2 separate regions of the Homo sapiens genome follow, and region 2 is linked to region 1. A link means that fine-mapping ties the variant in region 1 to the expression of a gene that starts in the linked region. Tissue or cell type: whole blood. Region 1 holds a variant in brackets; the other region holds the start of a gene. All regions are shown on one strand. Distances are from middle to middle.

The links. PIP is the estimated chance that this variant, and not a neighbour inherited with it, causes the effect.
Region 2: it holds the start of FGL2, and the variant in region 1 is fine-mapped to the expression of FGL2 in whole blood (TOPMed, PIP 0.99).

The regions. Positions count from the first base shown.
Region 1 is chr7:77,156,151-77,158,840 of GRCh38, forward strand. All of the region lies in intron 1 of CCDC146 (coiled-coil domain containing 146), which reads left to right. All of the region lies in intron 1 of LOC124901678 (a long non-coding RNA gene), which reads right to left. Among named protein-coding and RNA genes, the nearest start is that of CCDC146, 35 kb to the left of the region's middle. The variant A/T (reference allele first, on the strand shown) is at 1,481.
Region 2 is chr7:77,198,263-77,200,952 of GRCh38, forward strand. FGL2 (fibrinogen like 2) reads right to left here and starts at 1,557. Exons shown (of 2, transcript NM_006682.3): 1 at 919-1,557. The coding sequence starts at 1,531. All of the region lies in intron 2 of CCDC146 (coiled-coil domain containing 146), which reads left to right. RefSeq lists a silencer at 1,148-1,257.

The DNA of each region.
Region 1 (2,690 bases):
ATGGATTACACATGCGTATAATCTAAGAGGTAACTGTTTAACATGTCTGAACATTAACTTTAAAGGCCAGATATGCACTTGAAGCTTTCTTTCAGAGTTTTGCTATTTGTGCGTTTGTGTGGTTTTAATTGAAGGTAGTTCAAACCCCATTGTTACTTTAACACTTCAATTATGAGGCAATTTTTATCTGTACATATTTACTGCAAGAGTTTTCATTTTTCCTTTAAGATTCTTTTTGTTTTTCCTGTAGGACTCTTTTCTTTTCAGGATTCTTTTTTCGAAAGTCCTCTTTATCATTCCTTTTAGGAAAAAAAAAAATGTTGTGATTTGATTTGTTGGGTCTTTGAATAACATTTTTACTTTCTTTTTTAAAAAAAGCATCTCCATAAATATATATACCTACTATGTACCCACAAAAATAAAAATAAATAAAATAAAATATGTATCTATATCTTAAAAAATGTTTCAAGTCTAACATTGTCTTTGTATGGTAAAAATGAGCATTGTATAATTGTACTTAGAATATAAAATCTAGGCAGGAATAACTGCAATCATTTTATCTGTGGCTTTTAGGACTATTAAGTTAGTTCCATCTGATTTTGTTGTTGTTGTTGTCCATTAAATGGATCTGAGGTATGCCTCATGTCAGATTGGCTGCCCAATATTCTGAGCCTGTCATATAGTGGACCGGAGGCCCCATAGGATGAGCCTTAAATTTTATAGACTTTTTATGTTATCTCCAAAAGATAATATACATATAATTACCAGAGATACACTGACAGAATTGAAGGCACTTGTCATACAACTTTATACCACAATTTTTGTAACCCTGTTTTGAAGTTTCTATGTTTTTTAACATGTTAGGAAACTAAAACAAAACAAAACAAAAAAATGGAAGTGTCCCAGAGTTCTCCCTTCCTCCAAGGGGTCAGCTCTGAGTTCCTGTAGAAACATGTTGTAATTAACCTTGTAGAGCAATGGGCTGCTGGGGGAAGGAGCACCCAATCTTATCTTCAGGGCAGTCAGAAGAGCCAAGTCACAAAAAAGAACACTCAGGTTCTGTGTGGGACTAGGAGAGAAATAAATCATGTTCAACTTTACATTACACCCTGCTGTTTCTAAAATGAGCAAAACCTGTGCTTGTTCAATGATGAGTAATATTGAAAGACCGTGTGGTTTTCTGCTACAGCTTTCTTGAAGCATTGCCATTTTATTGTCCAAAAGTCACATTGTTTGTGTATCCTGCCCCATTCTCTGGAGCATGCAGTATTTGGTTTTTACACATGCTCCTTGTAACTATCTAGAAATGTTTCCTTAATAATTCAAAATCAAAACAAAATGATGATCACCTATGTTTCATTTGAAGAAGAGGAATTACTGATGTGTATTACAAAACAAGGGGTACCCTGCAATGTTTATTGCTTAATTATTCTTTGTGAAGCTTCCTATTTTGGCTTATTCATGTCTTCTGCTTTCTTAA[A/T]ATCCCCTTAAGGCCACATCCTCTTCTCTTCAGACTCCTACAGCATCTCATGGTACTGCCTTGCCTCCTTCCAGTGGGGGCTGCTTCTCTGCAGAACTTGCTATGCCAGTGGTGCTCCCTGTAAGTGTGCAGTGTGTGGCCACCCTGTTTCTGTGGTCCAAGTTATCATAGCACCAATTTCAGTTAAAACGTTTAGAATTTTATGTCTGTGATTTTTTGATTAACTTGTCTTGCTGCCAGTCTCTGCGTCCCCTAAGGTCAGGAACCTTGTCTGGTCTTGCTCACCATGGTACCTATCTCCTACCCATAGCACAGTGGCTGGGTCCCAGCCTCCAGATTGTTTCCTTGCCTCTAAATTCACACATTTTCCAAGCCATTCTTCTCAGCAATATTGTCAGCAATATCTTTACAACTCTGCCATGGCTCCCAATGCCTAGAGTTCAAGTCCCAAATTCCAGGCTACCAGTTACTTTTTCAGCCCTATCTACTCTCCTAAGAACGTTGCTTTTTATTTGGGCTTATTTTACCTCAGCTTATGTGACAGAGAACTAGTTCTTTCCCTGCCTTACTTTCTCTTCAGATTATACATTGTTTGCATATTTGTAAATTCTTTATAGGAAAACTCAATAAATATTTATTTAATTGATTTAGGCATTCTGGAGATATAAGTCTCTAGAATTACCATACCTGATGGCTATGTAGTTCTTCCTATGCCAGGAATTTAAGGTGTTATATTAAACATTCTCTGTTCATATCACCGTAGCCTGAGAATATACTTTATTCTATTATTTTATTTACAGCTGTCAATCATATTGCCTGCAATATGGAACTATTAATACAATGGGCTTTGCAATCCTATATATTAACTGTCTTTGGATATTTATTGTTTTTTTTTGTTTTTTGTTTTGAGACAGAGTTTCACTCTGTTGCCCAGGCTGGAGTGCAGTGGCGCTATCTCGGCTCACTGCAACCTCTGCCTTCCAGGTTCAAACGATTCTCCTGCCTCAGCCTCCTGAGTAGCTGGGATTACAGGCGCCCACCACCATGCCCGGCTAATTTTTGTATTTTTAGTAGAGACGGGGTTTCACCATGTTGGCCAGGCTGGTCTCTAACTTCTGACCTCGTGATCCGCCCACCTCCACACCACAAAGTACTGGGATTACAGGCGTAAACCACTGCGCCCAGCCAGATATTTGTTTTATCCATTAAA
Region 2 (2,690 bases), 42 kb after region 1:
TACTGTCTCTAAATGAAAGTGATCTCCGCCCTGTCCTTTCAACCTCACGTTCATGGTAAGTAGAGGTCCAAATGCGGAGATGGCTTTCCAAAGTATGAGACAGTCAGCAACAGTGGTCCCAGTGACTCAGGTGAAAAGCCAAGGTTTGGAGAGTCAATACCACTGTTAGTTCGTGGGTGGAGTAGGCGATTAAGTCTGTGGAATTTCACATGTATTTATTAAAGTTAATTCAAGTAATTTGGATGGTGAGGATGGGTTCTACTTCTATCTGCTTGAATTCTAACTTCAGGTAAAAGAGAAAGAAATATGAATACCTTCCCTTAGTGGCATGCTAAAACTCTCCCCTTAAAATATTTTTTGTGCCACTAGGTCTCAAAGCAAAAATTTGTGCACACATATGAAACTGCTTTTATTCCATCTGTAAACTCTCCCATTTTCTCCAGATATTTGGGATTAAGAACTAGATTACTTGCTAAAATCTTTCAAAGACCTCTTTAGCCATGAGAAGCGGCAGTCAGTCAATCACAAGAAAAACTGATTTCCAACAAACAAGGCACAATTGTGAACATCGCCTTATCTTTATTGTTTTCAAACACCTCATTGAAGAGACAAGTTAAATGCACTAAAACATCAAGAAATTCTCTCTACTTCTGCTTGCAAGTAGGTCTGGCATTAACAAATAAGATCTTAAAATTGAAAGTGACTTCCAGTGGATACAGAACTAACTATGATTTTTGTAATTAGGTCATATTTATGTGGTCATATTTGAGAAGATATTTATTTTTTCCTGTGCACCTTGATAAATAAAAGACTTAATCTGTCATCTATTTAACTTACTGACTCAGGTTAATGTTTATAGATACTCTCTAGCTGTATAACATTTATGAACATATGATAAGAAAACATTATTATACATACCTGGACGTGACTGTATTTGTTCTTGGCTGGGACACTTTGAACATTTGCCATCCAAACTATTGACAACAAATGTTAGATTTGCCACTTTGCTGTCAACATAATTTTCTATGTTGTTCATATTTACAAGATTCAGCTTCTCCAGGCGACCATGAAGTACATTGATCTCCTCTTTGGCATTCTTTAGCTCAGAGGACAGCTTGTTAACCTCACTCTCTAATTCTCTAACTCTGTTATCACCAACCTCTCCCGGGGCTCCTGTACTGGGTAACAACAGTCCGTTTCTGCCTGGGTCTCCGTTGTCATCAGCCTGCAGCTTGCAGTCTTGGCAAGATTTCTTTAGACTATTTACGATTTCCTTGAGGTTTTGGACTTCTTTGAACACCTCCTCGATCCTGCTGAATTGCTTCGGGAGCTGAATAGTCAAGGGGGGCAGGCTTACCTGGTAGGGGCACTCCCCTGCCTCTTCGCATTTCCCTCTGCTTTCTAGTCTCACTGGGCAGACATCCTTTGCTCTTTCATCTTTAATTTCCTCTGTTTCATTGTTTGCCACAACCAAAAAACCGTAAGTGGCAAGAACAGCTGAGCTCAGCCAGTACCAGTTAGCCAGCTTCATCTTTACAGTGCTGCTCACCCCAGCAGGGAGTGCGCAGGGCTGGAGCTGCTTTAATAGCGGCAGCTGCCTGAGTCAGGCTTTCTGTGTTCCCAGGAAAGGGTGGGAGCGTTTGCATCACAAGTTTTAGAAACGCACAGGAAGAGGAGATAGCCCTCATCAAACGCAGTTTGCCAAAAACTGTAACTTACTCTCAATAGAAATAATATGCATTGAAATTATTATAGTCAAATGTACACAGCCAACAAGATTCACTTTCATAATGTATTTTATGAAGTATAAGAAAAGTCTTGCATTTCTAAAGTAATTTGGTATACTTACGCTTGAAGTAAATAATTATACGTAACTTCACTGGAAAAACAGTTTTTAAAGATAAAAAGTAAGAGCTAGTTATCCAAACTGTCTATAGAACAGAAACGTTACTAAAATGAAAATGGTCCTTTTTCCTTCTTAGAATGGGGCATTGGGGAGCCTGTATTTTCTTCATGTTGGACTTTCAGGTGAAATCTTAAGCACTTTTAGAAGTTTCTAAGTGTAACAAAGTACAGCTTTCTGACTATTGCAGTTGACTTTTGCTTCATCTACTTGAAAAAGAGAAGAAAACTAGTGGAGAAAAAAGTGCTACTTTCTATTCCTTTGTCCGTAGCATAGTGTATATTAATGTCTAAATGTCTAAGACCCATTTAAAAGGACATAATTGTCTTTCATCAAAACCAGTAGCTGCCTCCTTTGCCCTTCGACATTTTGGTAATTGTACTGTCATCTTCCACAGCTGCTCAAATGTGAATCTTTGAGCTATGCCAGTGTCTGTCCTGAACTTCTCTTGCCTACAGCATCTTTGCCCTTTCTTTCTGCAGGTAGCCCTGGCAGGCGGGCCTCTTGCTTTCTGTCTCCACGCTGGTTCTTCTACCTGCTCTCTGGGCCACTTGGTATATCAGCTTGTTCAAAACATGTAGCATTAATGATAATAGTTTTCTAACTTTCTCTTCAGAGGCTGAAGGCAGGAAAGAGGAACAGCTTCAGTTAGAGAAACCACCTCCTTTTAATTTGTTTTGCATATTGACATCTCATAAGATTTCTTGTTTAAAAAGGGTTTTTTTGCTTTAAAAATAATTTCAAAATGACTGACATGGGCAAAAATCTAAATGTTTTATTGTATTAC